Linked DNA regions of Homo sapiens: all the other regions are linked to region 1. Evidence: fine-mapped expression QTL. A gene starts in region 1. Each other region holds a variant in brackets. All regions are shown on one strand. Distances are between the middles of the regions.

What was found. PIP is the estimated chance that this variant, and not a neighbour inherited with it, causes the effect.
Region 2: its variant is fine-mapped to the expression of TRPM6 in whole blood (TOPMed, PIP above 0.99).
Region 3: its variant is fine-mapped to the expression of TRPM6 in whole blood (TOPMed, PIP above 0.99).
Region 4: its variant is fine-mapped to the expression of TRPM6 in whole blood (INTERVAL, PIP 0.98).
Region 5: its variant is fine-mapped to the expression of TRPM6 in whole blood (INTERVAL, PIP 0.99).

The regions. Positions count from the first base shown.
Region 1 is chr9:74,886,310-74,890,430 of GRCh38, reverse strand. It overlaps TRPM6 (transient receptor potential cation channel subfamily M member 6), which reads left to right and starts at 2,510. Exons shown (of 39, transcript NM_017662.5): 1 at 2,510-2,607. The coding sequence starts at 2,575. RefSeq lists an enhancer at 3,124-3,418.
Region 2 is chr9:74,863,962-74,868,082 of GRCh38, reverse strand. All of the region lies in intron 1 of TRPM6 (transient receptor potential cation channel subfamily M member 6), which reads left to right. Among named protein-coding and RNA genes, the nearest start is that of TRPM6, 22 kb to the left of the region's middle. The variant G/A (reference allele first, on the strand shown) is at 2,103.
Region 3 is chr9:74,816,697-74,820,817 of GRCh38, reverse strand. TRPM6 (transient receptor potential cation channel subfamily M member 6) reads left to right here. Exons shown (of 39, transcript NM_017662.5): 9 at 391-514; 10 at 3,854-3,926; 11 at 4,049-4,121. Among named protein-coding and RNA genes, the nearest start is that of TRPM6, 69 kb to the left of the region's middle. The variant A/G (reference allele first, on the strand shown) is at 1,657.
Region 4 is chr9:74,805,980-74,810,100 of GRCh38, reverse strand. It overlaps TRPM6 (transient receptor potential cation channel subfamily M member 6), which reads left to right. Exons shown (of 39, transcript NM_017662.5): 14 at 1,927-2,067. Among named protein-coding and RNA genes, the nearest start is that of TRPM6, 80 kb to the left of the region's middle. The variant G/A (reference allele first, on the strand shown) is at 2,412.
Region 5 is chr9:74,855,789-74,859,909 of GRCh38, reverse strand. TRPM6 (transient receptor potential cation channel subfamily M member 6) reads left to right here. Exons shown (of 39, transcript NM_017662.5): 2 at 1,162-1,241. It also overlaps the pseudogene RNU6-445P. Among named protein-coding and RNA genes, the nearest start is that of TRPM6, 30 kb to the left of the region's middle. The variant A/G (reference allele first, on the strand shown) is at 2,222.

The sequences.
Region 1 (4,121 bases):
TTTCCTGGTGCCCAGCATGATGCCTGACAAACAGTCTATGTTCAGGAAATATTTGTTGGCCTGAATCAAACCACACTAGACTACTAATGAATATTTTAAAATTTAATTTTCACAGCTACCCTGGGCATAGGTATGTTTGTGCCCAGAATAGTTTTCTTTTTATTTATTTATTTTTTGAGATATGGTCTTACTCTGTTGCCCAGTCTGGAGTGCAGTGGTGCCATCATAGCTCACTGCAGCCCCGACCTCCTGGGCTCAAGCAATCCTCTCACCTCAGCCATCCAAGTAGCTGGCACCACAAGTGTAAGCCACCACGCGTGGCTAATTTTTGTTTTTTTTTTTTGTACAGATGGGGTTTTGCCATGTTGACCAGGCTGGTCTCGAAATCATGAGTTCAAGTGATTCTCCTGCCTCGGCCTCCCTAAATGCTGGGATTACAGGCATGAGCCACCATGCCTGGACAAGAAGTTTTATATACAAGTTTGACAACTGATTAAAGTGCTTGTGAAAGATACAGATTCCTGGGCCCCACCCTATAAATCCTGATACAAGAGATCTGGGTAGGGTGGTTGGAGCCTGGGAATCTGCACTTTTGACAAATGCCTCAGATGTTTCTGATACAGCTTGGGAACCAAAGGCAGCTTGTAAACTAGTACATTCAATGCTTTAAGCACTTCACATTGCCCTTGTATTTCAGGCTCTAAATGCCTTGAAGCTTGATCTGAAAAGAATATATGATCATCCTAACATGTAGGTTTACCAAAGATGGTAAACTAGAAGATGGTAGACTTCTTACAAATCTTGAGTTCCAAATGGCTACTCTTCTTGGTGGGTCTGAAGATTTCTGAGAACTCTCTGACCCAGTCACTGTAAGAGACCTAACAAAGAAATTGTATGGAAGACAGAGATCGAGAAGGATTTACTTGCCTTAGAAGAGCTTTCAGAACCTGTTAACTGTTTACAGATTAACGCTTTAAAGAAGATGGGTTAAGGAGAGGAAAGGAGATTAAATGTGTTTATAGAAGAACAACAAATGCCTAGCACTTAGGGAGGCTGAAGTGGGTGGATTGCTTGAGTTCAGAAGTTCGAGACCAGCCTGGGCAACATGGTGAAACTCCGTATCTACAAAAATTACAAAAATTAGCCAGGTGTAGTGGCTTGCACATGTAGTCCTAGCTACTTGCGGGGGCTGAGGCTGGAGGATTGCTTGAGCCCAGGAGGTGGAGGTTGCAGTGAGCCGACATAGTGCCACTGCACTCCAGCCCGGTGACAGAGCGAGACCCTGGCTCAACAACAACAGCAACAACAACAAAAAGAAAAACAACAAAATGCCAATACACATATGAGAGATTACAATTTTCCAATAAACAAAGAAATGCTTATTAAAACCACATTGAGAAATGAGGGGAAAAAACCTGTAAACTGTCTGCAAATGTGAATTCACCAGGCAAAAATTCATAATAAACTAAATGAGTAGGTGTCCCTAATTTTAAGTCGGTTGTCAGGGATGAATGACTAGCATTGTTAATTACACTTGTAATAATGTGAGCATCATTTTGCCTGTGTGCTTTGTGCCACCTCTGCCAACACCCTGGGATCCACCCCAAATCACTGACCACAACCTTAATCAAGACTGCCTAGGCCGGGCATGGTGGCTCACGCCTGTAATCCTAGCACTCTGGAAGGCTGAGGCATGAAGATCGCTTGAGTCCAGAGTTTGAGACCAGCCTGGGCAACATAGTGAGACCCCATTTCTAAAATAAATAAATAAATAAATAAATAAATAAATAAATAAATAAATAAAATTAGCCAGGCACTGTGGTGTGTGCCTGTAGTCCCAACTACTCTCTGGAGCCTGAAGTGGAAGGATCACTTGAGCCTGGGAGGTCAAGGATGCAGTGAGCCATGATCCTGCCACTGCACTCCAGCCTGGGCAACAGAGCAAGACTCCATCTCTAAAAAAAGAAGAAAGAAAGAAAGAGAGAAAGAAAGAAAGAAAGAAAGAAAGAAAGAAAGAAAGAAAGAAAGAAAGAAAGAGAAGATGCCTATCCAGAGGAATCCACCAAAACAAAACAAAACAAACAAAAAAAATGAAAAAAAAACCAGAAATAACAAAACATTTGTATTGTATGTTACACATGAAGCACATTAAGTGATTTCCTTTGTTCATTGTAACCTTGTGAGGGAACTGGATTTTTGTCCCTATTATTCCCATTGCATAGATAAATAAACTGAGGCTTGACATGCCCAATAAGTCACAGGTAGTAAAAGCAGTGCGTTAGCTTAAATCTCTGATCTCCTCACGCCCCACACTGACTCAACAGTAACAATACATTACTACAAAGGATGTCTGTGATGACAGTGGCCATCCCATTTGATCCTCGTTATTCTTCTTTTATCGAAGGAAACTGAGAGTCACCTTCTTTTCTAGGCAGTTAGGTAACTGAAGCCGAAAGGTATTGTGACAGATCCACTGGGCTGTAAAAGGCAGCGTGTGGAGGTGGAGCCCAGAGTTTCTGCCTCCACAGTTAAAAGCTCAGACAGGGCTTTGGGAGCAGGGCCTGCAAATCAAAGATGAAAGAACAACCTGTCTTGGAGCGCTTGCAGGTAAGCTCAGGCTGCTCGACTGGCGGGGAACAAGGACCTTAGGCGATTCGCTAGATCTGCGCCCCCGGCCTTAGATAGAAGTGGGTGGGGCCAGGGACACTACATCTAACGAGGATCTAGAATAGCTAGGATTTATGAAATACCGGCTTTCAAGTTCTCTGGTCTCCACCCAAAGATGATTATCCTATCTAAGGTAGTGTACGCTACTACAGGGCAGGTCCCGCAGCCCCCGTTTCAAGAGCTGGGATGCGGCCATAGCGGAGGTGGTGTCAGAGCGGAAACCTAGCGGGGGTCGGGGGTTCAGCTCGGGGCGGTGGGAAACACCCCGGGAGAGGAGGCAGCTCTGATTCCGCTCCGGGCCGGAGGGAGAGGAGTTCGGAGGTGGCTTGAGCTGAGAATCCGGAGGAGAGAAGGCGCGTTTTGAGCTGCCACGGGCACAGATCTCAGACCCGGACGCTGACTAGCCGGGGGTCGCGGCTTTCCGAGGCGGCTGGAGAAGTGCCCAGACGGCCGTCCCTCCGCGCCCCTGCGCGTCCCCGTGCGCCCAGTGTTCCCCGTGCAGGAGTCCCGGAGCGATGACAGCGCCGGTTACGGTAAACACCCGCCCCGCCGCAGTCCGCTTCCTTCCCCAACGCGGCGCCGCCCGGACTTGCAACCTCAGGAGTCCCCGCTGGCTCCTCTCCACCGCTGGCATATGGCGCAACAGGAAGTTCTGGGGGCTTGGAGAGGGAGGGTGCTCCTGGCTGTTGGGAGAGCACTGGAGACGCTTGGGAGAGTAGTGGAGATCCTGGTAATTTCTTGGTCTCGCCTATTTTGTCTGGACTTTCTCACACTGTGTATGAAAAATAAGTATAATTGAGCACATTGTATTTCAGGAATAGTCCAGGCAGCTTAGCAAACGTTAGCTCATTTCAGCCTGCTCTGATAAGAACATATGCTCTGGAGCCAGGTAGCCTGAATTAGCATCCCAGCTGCATCACTACCTGTGATTTTGGGCGAGTTAACATCTGTTCTTCGGCTTTCTCATCTGGAAAATGGGATAATACGATTTGTAGTTTCAAGATGAATTGAAATGCTACATGCCATTTGCACTTAGAATAATGCCTGACGTATTTAGCAGGTTGTAAGAGTTTGGGATTCTTAACTATTTCATCCTGGCAGTAATCCTATAAAGTCCAAGTATCCTGTCTCTCCCATCTCCACCGGTTTACAGGTGAGGAAAATGAAACCAAAGGAGAAAAGCAGATTTGAGATTTGAACTCAGGTCAGTGCTTTAAGACACGGAGAACATAAAAAAGAAAAAAAAAAAAGAGAAAAAAAGACACTGAGAACATAGATGTTCTAGTCATACACATCATTTGTGATTATTTGTTCTAGGGAGAAATGATCACCTTTAATTGTTAAAGTGGGAAACGAGTTATTCAATTTCTTTCCCCCTGTATACAGATTTTGATGTTTCACTGTCATCTGCTTTGGGTTCTTACAGGACTGATAAAGCGTTAGCTATTTTGGCC
Region 2 (4,121 bases), 22 kb after region 1:
TCCCGGATTCAAGTGATTCTCCTGCCTCAGCCTCCTGAGTAGCTGGGATTACAGGCCTGTGCCACCATGCCCAGCTAATTTTTTTTGTTTTTAATAGAGTTGGGGTTTCGCCATGTTGGCCAGGCTGGTCTGGAACTCCTGACCTCACGTGACCCTGTGCATCGGCCTCCCAAAGTGCTGGGATTACAGGCGTGAGCCACTGCGTCTGGCCATCAAAGTATTTTTTTTTAAATGAATGAATAAACCTATTATTCTTAGAGGTATCAATTTTTCTTTTCATTTGTTTCTTCCTTTCGAGGTTTCAATGTTTTAAAAGAGGTGGATAAACTGATAGGATGTATCCTGCCTATGGATTGTAAAGGGCTGGTTCCACACTTCGCAAGCTTCCCAAGGTCACTGAATTTAACGACATCTTCTGGAGGGTGGGTGTGGTAGGCATTAAAGTTGGCTGTAAGTTTAGAAATTGAATGCATTCCAAACTACCCTTGAAAAGTCCCTTTCATTGAGCATAAAATACAGTACATGAAGATTTTATCTTGTGTTGGAACTTTCTTCAGTTGAGTACCAGATTAAACAGGGGATCTAGAATCTACTCATTAAGATGAGGTATGCAGACTAAGATATGCATGTGGGAACTGAGACCATCTGGGGAATGGTATATTCTTGCTCTCACAGACTCCACTCTAGTGTCTACACACAGTCACTTGTGTGCAGTAGTTCTCTGTATGTGGTCCAAGGACTCCTAGAGGTCTCTAAGACCTTTTCAGAGGGTCCTCAGAGTCAAAATTATTTTCATAATGGTACTAAGATGCTATTTGCCCTTTTGACATATTTTCTCATGAGTGTACAGTGGAGTTTTCCCAAGGGTACATGATGAATACACAATGATCTAAAAAGGCCATTAAAATACTCTCCCTTTTCAACTACATGTCTCTGTGAGGCAGATTTTCTTTGTATACTTCAAGCAAAACCACTTATTGCAAAGGATTGAGTGCAGAAGCAAACATGAGAATTTAGCCATCTTTAGCCAGACATGAAAGAGATTTGCAAAAACATAAGACAGTGCTCTGTTTATGAACTTTTTTGGAAAATTTTTGTGTTAGCATGTAACAGGTTAAAATGAACTAATAAGTAAATATTTTTAAATGTCTCAGTTTTAATTTCATATGTGGTAAATATTGGTAGACATAATTTAAATAAACAAAATACTTTTTGGAGTACTTGGTAGTTTTTATGATTATGAAAGGATCCTAAGCTCAAGAAGTTTCAGAACTGCTGCTTTTGGAAATAAGATACTCCTGAGGCTGGATGCGGTGGCTCACGCCTGTAATCCCTGCACTTTGGGAGACTGAGGTGGGTGTATCACCTGAGGTCAGGAGTTCAAGACCAGCCTGGCCAACATGGTAAAACCCTGTCTCTACTGAAAATACAAAATTAGCCGGGTGTGGTGGGGCATGCCTGTAATCCCAGCTACTCAAGAGGCTGAGGCAGGAGAATCGCTTGAATCTGGGAGGTTGAGGTTGCAGTGAGCCGAGATCACGCCATTGCACTCTAGCCTGGGCAACAAGAGTGAAACTCTGTCTCAAAAACAAAAAAACAAAAAACAAAAAACCCCCCCAAAAAAATCAAACCTACTGATAGTGGAATGACAGTGAAACTGCCCACACTATTAAAACTGTTTTTCTCTCTGTCTTATTTTTCACCTTCTAGCCTTCTCTCATTCTTTTAGCAAAGCTTTTGAATTTGTCTAAGTTACACACGTGGTATGAGTGTCCCCCAAATTTTAAGGAGCAAAATCCAGTTGTGTCTTCTTTGTGCTGTGCTATACTGAAAAAAATAAGACAAATAATCTCCATTGTCTATATAAACCTTACTATGAATGTCATAAATAAAATTTAACCTGTAACTTCTTTTTAAAAATGTTTCTATTTTTTATATTATTGGACGTAGACACGGGGTCTCGATATGTTGCCCAGGCTGGCCTTGATCTCCTGGGCTCAATGATTCTCTAGCCATGGCCTCCCAAAGTGCTGGGATTCTAGGCGTGAGCCACCATGCCTGGCCAAACATGTAACTTCTAATAAAGGCTTTATTGTCTGAGA[G/A]GTTGGTAAGTTTCCTAAAAGTCAATTATTTAACAGTATATTTTCCCCAGTCATGGTGGTACATATCTGTAGTCCCAGATTCTCAGGGGGCTGAGGCAGGAATATCACTTGATCCTAGGAGTTCAAGGCCACAGTGTGCTGTGATCACGCCTGTGAATAGCCACTGCACTTCAGCCTGGGCAACATAGCAAGACTCTGTATTAAAACAAAAATAAAAGCATAGTTTCATGAGCCACTCCAAAAAAGACTTTATTTTAGGTCATGTAGTTTATTTGCATGTAGTACTAGTAAAGTTTTGGATAATTTAACAAGATATTTGGAGCATAAATGAAGACCATCTGTGTACATAGATAACAAATTTGTGAGCATTTTGGAGCTTGGAAATTGGAGAGAATTGAGTGCATGTAGGTGGAAAATCTAACCAGATTAGAGTGGTTGTACTACAAATAGGCCCAGCATTTGGTTAAATCTCTGTATTTTACTATCGAGGGACAGTTGTAAAGTACACTCATAAAGGAGACTTCCATTTCCTCTTCCCTTTTTATCAGAATGATTTAACAAGATCTGAAATTATAAATGTTTCATTTGCATGTTTTATTCCCCAGGAGACTGGTTAAACCCTGAAGCGTGAGTGACAACTGAGGAAAAGGATGTCTTTCGCTGCTATTTTGAAATTGGGTTTTGGGGCTGAAATAATGAGGGCTTCAACCAATTTGGAAAGAGGAAGGAAGGGGTATGATATCACTTCACTTTTCACCTTTCTGATGCACTTTACTTGGAAGGTTACTGTTGAGTTCCTCTAATCCCCTATTTGGCTCCAGGAAGATTTATAAATGTTTTACTCCTTAACTCTTGAGTTTATATAATCTAGAAATTCATTCTGACGTTCCATTTTTTTTTTTTTTTTGAGAGGGAATTTCTCTCTCATTGCCCAGGCTGGAGTGCAGTGGCACGATCTCAGCCCACTGCAACTTCCACCTCCTGGGTTCAAGCGATTCTCTTGCCTCAGCCTCCTGAGTAGCTGGGATTACAGGCGCCCACGACTGCGCGTGGCTAATTTTTTGTATTTTTAGTAGAGACAGGGTTTCATCATGTTGGCCAGGCTGGTCTCGAACTCCTGACCTCAGGTGATCCACCCACCTCAGCCTCCCAAAGTACAGGGATTCAGGCATGAGCCACTGCACCAGGCCTCATTCCAAGGTTCTAAATGCCTTTGCTTAGCAAAGCACTATGTGAAAATGTTAGTAAAATTTCTCAACTACTCAGGAGAAATGGCGTTTTAGGGAATTGTGAATTATTTAGTTGACATTCAATTTTTAGAGATGTTACCAAAAATAAATTACTACCAGCTAAATAGTGCTCACCTTTTACCACCAAAGTGAGATGAAGGTGTAAGGTTACTTTGTGTTCTCTGCCTCCTGGACAGACTATTTAGTGGAAAATCAGTCAACACACTTTCTGGTAGTGTTGGTGGAACAGGAACTTGGTTTTTAGATATTTTTAGCCTGGATGCTGTTTTTCTGAGACTGCCCCTCTCGGATCAAGTGTCAGGTAGGTATCCTTGCAGAATTTGGACAGATAGAAGGCCCTGAGCTGACACTTGAAAGTGGATGGGCTGGCTTTGCACTGATGGATTCCCTGAGCCAACAGATTGATTGATGGTACATCCTGATGTCCATCTACCTGGCACTTTGAAGGGATTCTTGCTTCAAGGGAGGCACTCTGAAGAAAAAATAACAAATGTTGATCTGGAGTCTGAAAATATTGTCTATTTGACCCATTCTAGTGTTGTGAATTCCAAGATAAATAAAATAATGCTCTCTTTTGAAGTGGATTACAATAAGGTTAAGAGAGAGAGAGAGATGGTCCAGTGAATGCAAGTAAACATTGTTAGTGCTGTGATGTGTGTAAGAGAGAATGCAGGAAATCAAAATCGGAGTCAGTTATCAGTTCCACTGAAGAAGTAGTTGTTAGATGATAGATTTTTTTTAAGGTGCAAAAAAGTTGTAGAAAGAAAAC
Region 3 (4,121 bases), 70 kb after region 1:
CTCCACTTCAGAGTATATTCTTTTCAGGATGTGGCAGATCAACCCATTCTCACTTTCTTTCTTCTTTTATAAATGTAAAAATAGAGGCAGGGTCTTGCTATTTTGCCCAGGCTGGCCTCGAACTCCTGGCCTCAAGTGATCCTCCACCTGGGACTCCCAAAGTGCTGGGATTACAGGTGTGAGCCATCATGCCCGGCTCCATTCCCACTTTCAAATTCAGCTTTCTTCTTGAGCTCCTGCTTCCGTTTGCTCCCCCTCATTTGCTCTTCTGGCAGAACTGTCCATAGACACCTTTTCAGTCTGGGGAGCTGATGGGGTGTTTTCTTGTACTGATGTTGCCGGCTCATTCCCCTCTCTGGGTTGTGTCAAGACCATTTATTTCTCTTCCAGGATGCTGCGACCTCAGGTGAAAGAGGAGATCATCTGCATGATTCAGAACACTTTCAACTTTAGTCTTAAACAGTCCAAGCACCTTTTCCAAATTCTAATGGAGTGTATGGTTCACAGGGATTGTGTGAGTATGACGAGTTGATGATTCAACTGACTTAAGAACTGCTAATTTATAAACACTGTAATATTTATTTTCACAATTAAAAAAAAACATGGTGGACACAGGAAGGGGAACAACATACAGGGGCCTGTCAGGGTGGAGGGGGGAGGGAGAAAATCAGGATAAATAGCTAATGCATGGAGATCTTAATACCTAAGTGATGGGTTGATAGGTGCAGCAAACCACCATGGCACACATTTACCTGTGTAACAAACCTGCACATCCTGCACATGTATCCCAGAACTTAAAATAAAGTAAAATTATTTAAAATTAAAATAATAAAAAATAAAAAATGTGGATTTTTCATTTTGATTTTGAGTGTATCTAGCTCTACAGAATTTGATTCTTCGTTGAGTAAACTTGACTTCTTGCTGTCACTGCTGTCCGCACTCTCCATGCTTCAAATACTAGACTCTACTACAGAAAAAGCACTTAGTATAACAATGTTCCAGAAAAGTTATCAGATTTAGTGAAAATTACACAGAAGTATTTTCAGAGGGTAAAGGAACAGCTCCATGTCTTCAATGAACACAGCTTCATGGTGCTGAGTTACATGACTGCCTCACAGCGTCCTGAGTAAATCCTGCAGGAAATCATTGGGAATGTACTGGACAATGGGAAAAGTGAGAATAAACTCTGGGATAAAAAATGGAGCCCACAAACTATGGGCTATTACCATAATGTAGACTCAGGAAAAGTTTTTAGTGTTTTAGGGTACTGTGATAAAAAGATTAATTTATTTAATTAATTTATTTGGTAAAGACAAGGTCTTGCTCTTTTGCCCAGGCTGGAATGCAGTGGTGCAGTCATAGCTCACTGCAGCCTTGAATTTCTGGGCTCAAGTGATCCTCTTGCCTTGGTCTCCTAAAGTGCTGGGATTATAGGCATGAGCCACCATGGCCAGCCTATGAACAAAATGACTTGGATGATATGAATTATCAATTCTTTTTTTTTTTTTTGAGACAGGGCCTCACTCTGTCACCTAGGCTGGAGTGCAGTGGCGAGATCTTGGCTCGCTGCAACCTCCACCTCCTAGGCTCAAGTGATTCTCATGCTTCAGCCTCCTGAGTAGCTTGGACTACAGGTGCATGCCACCATGCCTGGCT[A/G]ATTTTTGTATTTTTTGGTAGAGATGGGGTTTCACCATGTTGGCCAAGCTGGTCTCGAACTCCTGGCCTCAAGCGATCTGCCTGTCTCGGCCTCCCAAAGTTCTGGGATTGCAGGCATAAGCCACTGTGCCCGGCTGAATTATCAATTCATATCAATGACTCAGATGATATGAAGCTGACAATTACAGTAAATATACAGATATGTCATGATTCAAGGTGATCTTTCTAGAATCTGAAGGCTGGAGCAAATTGTATAAGAATTTTGGTAATATTTGAGTACCTGGCCTCAAAAAAAAAAACCAACTGAAGTGTTCTGGCTAGAGGAAGCATGACGAAATCTATGTGGAAAACTCTTTGGGGTTTTAGTTGGCCCAATAACAACAATAATAGCAACCATGTTTCTAATTAGCAGCATGCTTCTAAATGTATTCTTTTCATTTGAAATAGCCCTGTGAGTGAGTTCAGTATGGCAGTGGTTATTTCCAGTTTGGAAATGATGAAGCAGAAGGCTAGAGAATTTAAGGGATTTGCAGTCATGCAGTTAAGAAATGACAGATATGCTCGGACACGTTGGCTCACGCCTATAATCCCAGCACTTTGGGAGGCCGAAGTGGGTGGATCACCTGACATCAGGAGTTTGAGACCAGCCTGGCCAACATGGTGAAACCCTGTCTCTACCAAAAATGCAAAAATTAGCCAGGCATAGTGGCGGGTGCCTATAATCCCAGCTACTTGGGAGGCTTAGGCAGGAGAATCGCTTGAACCCGGGAGGCAGAGGTTGCGGTGAGCCGAAATCGCACCATTGCACTCCAGCCTGGGCAACAAGAGCAAAACCCTGTCTCAAAAAAAAAAAAAAAAAAAAAAAAAAGAAATGATAGATCTGAAACGTGAGTTTCAGAAGAGTTGAAATCTTCTTAGTCTATTGCACTTTCTATTTGCCACAGTAATCAGTAAGTTAAGAAAAGGACAGGTAAAGGGATTGCCCTTATGTTTGCCTCTTCTTGCCATCAAGCAGAATAATTAATAAGCAATGTAATGACCAAGAGGGTCAAGAGAAGGCAGCAAAGGGCTTGCAGGTGATAGGAATTGGGTTGTACAATTGAGGACTGATTTTATTCGTGCACATAGAGGGCGTGTCAGGTGAAAGGAAACAATGTGTGAAGTTATAGAAGCATAGTTTTTTATCTTTATGATACCTTAGAGATTATTCAACAGGTTCCTCTCATTTTATGGATGAGGAGCCTGAGATTCAGCAGCAGCCTCAAGATATTTACCTAGGACTAGCTTGTTAGTGGCATACTTGGGACTAGGTCTTGCCAATCTTGGCTTTTTCATTAAAATAGCTCCTTCTACTATATGAAATGTATTTTAATTTAAAAAGACTGAGATATAGCCATTAATAACAGGTGACTCCCCCCCCCTTTTTTTGAAGCAACAAAAGCAGAGATTTATTGAAAATGAAAGCACACCCCACAGGGTGGGAACGGGTGAGCAAGTGCCTCAAGGGCCCATAGGTGACCCTTTGGAACCATAAGTAACGAACTTACTTGTCTTTAAAAGAGTCAAAGACCGTCTGTGTTGCCCAGGGTACTTGCTCATTGGGTCCACTGTAATTACCTCAGTTATTTTATGACAAACCCTTGAGGATTCATTTCTCGTAAAAAAGCAAGTCTGGCTGGGCGTGGTGACTCGCCTGTAATCCCAGCACTTTGGGAGGCTGAGACCGGAGGATCGCCTGAGCCCAGGAAATTCAAGACCAGCTTGGGCAATATAGTGAGACCTTGTCTCTACAAAAAATTAAGAAAAGAGAAAAAAAAGCAAAAGTCTTAGTTTCCAAGGCTAGGTGAATGAAGGATTTCATTCGTTGTCTCTTTGAAAGGAGACATGATTTTATTTACATCAGAAATTAACATTGAGGTTCTTTTTGTTGTAGCATGTACATAGTAAATTCATGTAATAACATTCTTTCATAAATGTTTCCTCTGGATATGTGGAATTTTTAGTTTTTTCCCCCCCAAGTGCCCATAATTCTTTGTTACCCTATTTAAAAGTTTTCTCTCCTGTAAGTAAAAAAAGGTTTTAAAGAAGAATGTTTTCCTCAATTCATTAGCTCCAGTCTGAATTCTGTGGGTACTCTTTGAAAGCATTTATTTGGTAGTTCCCCAAATGTATGGCTCTCTGTTTTTCACTGTTGTAGATTACCATATTTGATGCTGACTCTGAAGAGCAGCAAGACCTGGACTTAGCAATCCTAACAGCTTTGCTGAAGGGTGAGTATCTGGATGGGGTTGCAATTGTTCCTCATTTACGCTTCTCATGTTCCACAGTACTTTGTGCTTCTTGCGTAGATATCTTGAAAAGAATATATGATTGTTCCTTTCTTTTACCCTAGGCACAAATTTATCAGCGTCAGAGCAATTAAATCTGGCAATGGCTTGGGACAGGGTGGACATTGCCAAGAAACA
Region 4 (4,121 bases), 80 kb after region 1:
TGTTTTTCCAAAGTCTGATATCTTGTTAGAAGGAATGTGAGCTTTCAGTTTATGTTGACGTGGAGAGAGAGCCAGAGTGAAAGGAAGACATATCCTTGTTTTTTTTTTTTTTTTTTTTTTTTTTGAGATGGAGTTTTGCTCTTGCCCAGGCTGGAGTGCAATGATGGGATCTTGGCTCACTGCAACCTCCGCCTCTTGGTTCAAGTGATTCTCCTGCCTCAGCCTCCTGAATAGCTGGGACTACAGATGCCTGCCACCACACCCGGCAACTTTTCTGTATTTTTGGTAGACGTGGGGTTTCACCATGTTGGCCAGGCTGGTCTCGAACTCCTGACCGCAGGTGATCCACCCGCCTTGGTCTCCCAAAGTGCTGGGATTACAGGCATGGTCCATCGTGCTCCACCTATTCCTTGGCAAATTAGCAGTAAGCAAAAGTGTCCGTGCTCATGTAAATTTAGTTTGTATTGATTTATGCAATATAAAAATGATTTTATTTATTTTTTTTAAACTGTGCCACAGTAAACTGAAAAAAAGTGATGAACTAGGTTAAATATGTTCTAACTAGCAGCAATAAGAGCATTACTTTTGGCATTCCTTGAAAAAAGTAAATTATGCATGTGAAAAAGAAAAATTAAATTATTTACATTCATTCATATATAACCTTATTTCTTGTTCCAAGCTTTGTGAATATTAGTCACAATCTTCATTTCGGAGACCTTGTTCAACACTCTGTGTGCCTTTAAAAATTTACTATAAATGGGCAGTTTAAAAGTGAACAGTTATGAAGAGGTAGTAAGGTGCAATTTAAGTAGTCAAAATAATTTTCATTTAGACTAAGACCCACATACTTGGAAATCTACCACTCAGCCCTCCTGCCAACCAATCATAACACTTGTCTTGGCACAGCCTCATGGTTTTGTTTGTTTGTTTTGCTTTATTGCAATATTCTCTTTATTGTGGTGGTCTCGAACTGAACCCGCAATATCTCTAAGGTATGCCTGTATGGAGTTTCAGATAGTTACTCAGCTTGGCCAAGTGCATATGCTAAACTCTGGGTAGACAAAGACAGACCCTTTCACATAGTCTGTAAAGGAAGACAGACATGCAAGCTGACAACTTCAATACCCTTGTAATATATCCTGTGGGATTTTGGACCATAGGCAAAGTGGATTATAGACACAAAGACCCCCAAATATGCCCTGAAATATAGAAAACACTATACTGTCTATACTGGATTAAGTTCAATTCAAGGAAGAACGTGGCTGCATAAGCCTCATGTTTTGGTATTGAATTTGACTTTGTCATTCTATATTCCTTGTTTTCATTTGTTCTACTTCCTCCCATATTCTTGTTTTACATATGATGTAGTCAACGCAGTGCAAAGTGTTATATCCATTTCAACAAAGAGAGAAGCTGAAAAGCTAACCCAATGTTAATTTTGGATCACACACATTCAGTGTAGACTTTAAGATTTTACTTCTGTTGGAGTAGCTATATTATTTCTAGTTAAAAAACTCTCTATATACATATTTATTTGTTTTTCTACTTGTTTAATATTTTTCTCTTCCAATTAGGAACTCAATATGGAATAAAAAATATTTAAATGTATTTTACTCAAACGTGTGTGTATATATGTTTGTGTGCATGATAAGGAGAGTGAGAGCAAGAGTAAGAGAGAGAGAGCACGCATAGATGGAAGCACACATTTAATGTCTATGAAATGAGAAAACATTAAGGCTAAGATATTTTTCCTTCTGAACTAGCAGATTGTATCAATGGCTGGTCACTTAAATTAATCAGTTTGTAAAGATATTTAAAAGGTATGTCTACCTTCTTGCAATTAATTTGATTATGTTCTAATGGCATGGCAAGAGAAATGAAAGAAGATAACTAAAAGTTAAAAGTCGTTGCATGTTTTTGTTGCAGCATACCCTTCTTTCAGGCTACCGAATAACCTTGATTGACATTGGATTAGTAGTAGAATACCTCATTGGTAGAGCATATCGCAGCAACTACACTAGAAAACATTTCAGAGCCCTCTACAACAACCTCTACAGAAAATACAAGGTAGAGTAATTGAAAAGTGCCCAAGTAAAATTGAGAATGATTAGGAATTGTTGTTTTGGAAAAATGGCCTTGGAAGTTCAGACAAAAATAGCTCCTAAAATGGTCATTTTATTTATGGACATTTGTTATCTGCTGTATGTGAAGTATACTGTACTAAGTGTTGCAGTGTTGGCTTGGGATGCGTAAGGATCAGAAGTTTAGAAACTCTTAAACAGATTTATGAGTAACTAGCCATAATACAAAACAGTATATAATACATGCTATAGTGACATAGAAATAATGTGATGAGGCAGGTTAGAGGGAGAGATGACTAGTTCTTTTTTTTTCTTTTCTTTTTTTCTTCC[G/A]AAAATACTGATATCAAAAGCTTAATCAGATTAGATATGTAAACTCATCCTAGTCCATAGTCTGGAGATAACAAACTTGGTATAAGCATGTAGTGATTATATTGAAAGATGCGTGTAGAATATCCTTAAAAACATAAGTGATACATATTTTATTTTCCATGATAGTTTTGAGAATCTAGGAATGTAAAATTAGAGTTGTTGGTTAGTAGTTAGCAGAGGAAACATTGCCTATTTCTTGAAATTGCCATTATGGATTAGCAACCTGAGGAGACTCATTCTTATTAGAAGATGAGGGGAGGATTAGAAAATGTAGTTTTGGGTATTTTTGTTGAGAGAAGAGAAGGAGCAGTAAAGGGCACAGCCTTTGGATATTCAGGTATGTTTCTGCTGTGACAAGGAGACCTTTGTTGCTGGAGAATCAGTGTCATATGGTTTTAAGGGAGGAGACTGGAAAGGCAGTTTGGGGTAAGATTCCATAAACAGCCTAGAATATCAAGCTACTTGGGATCCTTTATAAAGAATCAAGTGACGTGAAAGCCCAGCTTGGCTTTCAGAAATGAAAAAGCAAAACAGGAAAGCCAAATCTGACACAGAAAAATGTTCTCTATTAAGATTTCAAAGGCATAAGGATACACTTAAGGAGGTATCAGCTACTTCATTTAAACAGAACAGACATTGCTGTGAGGTTCCCAGTGACAAGTAGGAGGACTGACTGTGGCGCTGGTGCAGCCCAGTGTGGAGCTTGCTAGGGAAGTTCCCTTAGTGCCCTTTCTTTAAATGGCCTGCCAGTACGAAGTCACCCATTTCTTGGATTGTCTTCCAGTGGAGTGCAGAGTTTATTGTGTGTCATATTAAACTAGACTGTAGTAGTTACAAGCACATGATTTTGGAGTCAAGAGACATCTGGCTAGGACTGCCTCCAATTTTGCTCTTTAGTAGCTGTGTAATCTTGAACAATAAGCTTAACTTCTCTGTGCATGTTTTCTCATCTATAAATGGGAATAGTAATGACCCTTTTATAAATTTGTCAGAAGGATTAAATAATATATGAAAAATCCATGTTCCTGATACACAGAGGGTGCAGAGTCATCGTTAGTAATAATGGTCATTATGATAATTACTATAATGACACTATTAATTCATATTACAATAGTAATAATAATTTGGGTGTTGCCTTTAAAAAGTCTTCACCTCATCATTTCTATGTTCAATTTTTATCAACAAAACAGAAACTTAAATAAAGCAGTTCAAAGCCTGTAGTTTGGGCTGGGCATGGTGGCTCACGCCTGTAATCCCAAGACTTTGGGAGGCCAAGGCAGGAGGATTGCTTGAGCCCAGGAATTCGAGACCAGCCTGGGCAACACGGTGAGATCCAGTCTCTAAATAAATAAATAAATAAATAAATAAATACAATAAATTTTTAAAAAGCCTATGGTTTTTTTTTCTCAGTTGTATTTTTTAATGGAAAATTTTAAACATACAAAAATAGAGAATAGTATAATGAATCCACATGTACCTATCACTCAGTTTCAATAATAGCAACAATGGCCAACCTCCTGCCCCCAGATTATTTAAGATCAAATCTTACATCATATCATTTCATTCATAAATTCTTGTGAATATCTCTAAATGAAATGTACTTAGGAAAATGTAATTATGATGCCATTATCATACATAAAAAATGAATAATTCCTTAATATAATCAATGAA
Region 5 (4,121 bases), 31 kb after region 1:
GATATGAGTGAGGTGGGGACTGCACTGACGTGGAGTTTGAAAAAGCTCCCTTTTAGAAAGCCTTCCTTTCATCTCTGTTCTAATATCTATGTGTGTATAAAGTAATATGGACACATATTCTTTTTTTTTTTTTTTTGAGACAGAGTCTCGCTCTGCCACCCAGGCCAGAGTGCAGTGGTGCAATCTCGGCTCACTGCAATCTCTGCCTGCCAGGTTCAAGCGATTCTCATGCCTCAGCCTCCTGAGTAGCTGGGATTATAGTTGCCTGCCACCATGCCCAGCTAATTTTTTGTATTTTTAGTAGAGACGGGGTTTCACCATGATGGCCAGGCTGGTCTCGAACTCCTGACTTCAAGTGGTCCACCCGCCTTGGCCTCCCAAAGTGTTGGGATTACAGGCATGAGCCACCACGCCCAGCTAGGACACGTATTCTTATACCATTTACAGCCAAAATATTTTTATATTAGAACTACTCACAAGTAGCTGGGATGTATAGTCCATCCAGTGTCCTCTGCCACTGGACTTGTAATATAGCTTATGGAGGAGCTTGGCTATGATATGGATTCTGTAGAATGGGAGAGAGTTTATTAGGAGGAAGAGTGAGTATCAACATCTCACTTGGATTTAGGGACAGTTCTAGGCTGTGCAACCTGAAACAACACACCCAATGGTAAAACTATGCTTGCAGAATGTGTATCGAATCTTGCTGAGTCACATCTCTTCTCTGACACTCTTTCCAGCTTCCTGTGAAATCTTAGCCAAAGTGGGACTTGATGGGTAAAAATTTTGAAGTTTCGGGAGCTTGGTATTTATTCCATAGGATTATGGTACAAGATATAAAAGTGACTTTTGGCAGATTTAAGAGGATATATCAGTTACATCTTTACTTCCTTGCTAGGGGTTTGTTCATGTAGGGCTTTTGTTACTCAAAGTGAGATTATGGGCATATTCACTTTGCGTGTCGTTTAATGTTCACATTTGGCTTATTTGTGCCTATGTTATCTGTAATAGAAACTGGTAAATGCTTAGCCTGTGTGGGGTTGGTCTTGGCATTTTAATTAGCATTCATGATACTTGAGTATTTCTTACCTGCAGGAACTACTATGGTTACATTGTTTTGTCACATAATTAGAGTATAAAATAATGACACTTTCTTTTTAGTCCCAGAAATCCTGGATTAAAGGAGTATTTGACAAGAGAGAATGTAGCACAATCATACCCAGCTCAAAAAATCCTCACAGGTAAAATTTTCAATTACCTTCTTCTTTTAAAAGCAACACTACCTGATGGACTATTTATAGAAACTTAGAAATATGACTTGTTTAGAAGTTTTGATCATATCTATAAAGTTAGAATTTTCAATGTTTATTTCTTTCACTTTATAAAAATAATACATGATTATTGTAGAAAATCTGGGAAGAACAGGGACCTTGTCCATTTTTACCTTACTCTTACTCCAGTGTCTGTGACAGTGCCTGCCACATAGTAGGCTCTTGATAAATATCTGTGTTTTTGTTTTTTTGAGACGAAGTCTCGCTCTTGTCCTCCAGGCTGGAGTGCAGTGGCGCAATCTCAGCTCACTGCAACCTCCACCTCCTGGGTTCAAGTGATTCTCCTGCCTCAACCTCCCGAGTAGCTGGGATTACAGGCACCTGCCACCACGTCCGGCTAATTTTAGTATTTTTAGTAGAGACAGGGTTTCACCGTGTTAGCCAGGATGGTCTCAATCTCCTGACCTCGTGATCCACCCACCTCGGCCTCCCAAAGTGCTGGGATTACAGGCGTGAGCCACCGAGCGATAAATATCTGTTTAAGGAATTTAATGAAGTACAAAGAAGTTATTCTTAATGCCGTCACTGTTAATATTGTCGTGGATTTCATTCTACTTGATTCTTCTGTTCCTCTTGATGGGAGGATAGACGTTACAGAAATATCTAGTGTTACATCCATTTCAGTGGGTTGGAATCAATAAATTACATTTTCTGAATACTGAATATTCAAAATATTGTGAATGTTTCTTATCCCCAACTAAAGTATCTGTGGAAAATAGTGACTGGTATATTTAAGTACACTGTGCCCAGATTAGATGAACAGGTAATTTCAGTTCCGTTTTCCTTCCATAGACTTTATTTTTATGGAATGCTTTATGAATTTGCATGTCATCCTTGAGCAGGGGCCATGCTAATCTTCTCTGTATCATTCCAATTTTAATATGTGTGCT[A/G]CCGAAGTGAGCGCCCATAGGCTTTTGGATTGAGCAGATAATCGGTAGCAGAATGGAATAATTTGAGTTTGACTACTGAGTTCTTGACAATGCTTTGGAAGCTCTACTTGTAAAACAAAGGTCAAAAAAGCAACTAGTGAAAGATAGGGGAAGAAAGGGCTATGGAAAATTCCTCTGGGTAATCAGGTCTGTGAAATTAAGATTGACATTGCCCTTGGAAAAATTAATTAAAAGGAAAATAGAAGAGTAATATTTTAAGTAAAGGAACCAACCTATTTTTAGATTTTTTTGGGCATTTGTCCTTATATGCCTTTAAGGTTTAGAACTCATAACTATGTGTTATGAAGGGTAGCAAGGTAAGGTTTTTGAAATTCTAGTTCTTTGGAGATGACTGAAATAGTGTTCTTTGCCTTTGTTAAATATTTACTAGTCCCACCCTTATTGAATTACCTATGATTTGTAAGTCTTGTGATTGGAAATTCTCTTTTTACCTGCTTAAGAAAGGTTTATAGTATGCCAAGATAACCTTGTTTTTCCCCTTCATTTTTTATGACATCATGTGGTGGTGACTGCAATGGAATGCAAGTTGATTCAGGTGGCTCATTTTGTGTCTGTGAATAAAAAAATCATTTTTACAATAATCTTGAATCTCAAAAAAAAAGTGATGAAATTACTGAGTCTTTTACTAGCCCATAGACTCAAGAAGAGTATCAACGATTGTAATTCCATGAATGTTCCAAGGCATGATGTACTTTTAGCAAGTGAAAAAACTGTCTCTATATTGTGGGATTGTAGATAAAAGTTAAGGTATGATTATGGCTATTTCTTCTAGCCAGCCTTTTTTTTAGATCCTAGTAAAATTCTCAGAATTGAGGCTTTTTTGCAGTTTTCTTCATTATTGGTGCACAGGAAGTGGGTGATAATTCACTTTTTAAAATATCGATAAAAGTTTGTTTTATTATTTTTGTAGCTCCCAATAAGAAACAAATCTGATACACTTGATTATAACATCTTTTTCCTTCTCATTTTCAATTTACTGTTGAAGGAAAGCTTCTGAGAAAAGGCATTCCCAAAAGGCTGGGACAGGAAGAAATAAAAGTCCTGAATATTAGTTTCTGAATAACTTAGAGCGGCCCTTATTTTAGGAACATTACCTTTTCTTCCATTATTTTAACTAGACTTCCCTGTTAATACTTCTTCACACACACACACACACACACAGACACACACACACACACACACATATTTTGAGACAGGATCTTGCTGTGTCCCCCACGTTGCAGTACAGTGGCATGATCTTGGCTTACTGAAGCCTCGACCTCCTGGACTCAAACAACCCTCCCATCTTAGCCTCCCAAGTAGCTGGGACCACAGGCACATATCAGCACACAGGGCTAATTTTTTGAATTTTTATAAGAGTCAAGGTCTCATTATGTTGCCCAGGCTAGTCTTGGACTCCTGAACTCAAGCAATCCTCTCACCTCAGCCTCACAAAGTGCTGGGATTACAGGCATAAGCCACTGTGCCTGGCCCAAAAATATAACTGATGACAACAGTGCTAACCCCTAAATCTATAAGGTTCTTCTGAATAATAAAAAAGAAAGATTAATAAAGGATAATTTGTAATTATACCAAATGTCCCTTATTTGATAGTGCTTTATGGTTTTAAAGTGGTTTACATATATCTATTTTCTTGATTCTCAAGAAATCTGTGTTATCTTCATAGTTTAATAATAATAGTAGCTACCATTATTGTACACACTGTCTTTACCAGGTACCATAAGACACATTACATATTATTATCTCTGATAATTATTTTAATAACCTTATGAAGCAGATATTATTTTCAGATATAAAAACTGGGGCTTAGAGTAATTGTTAAATCAATGAGATTTAAATT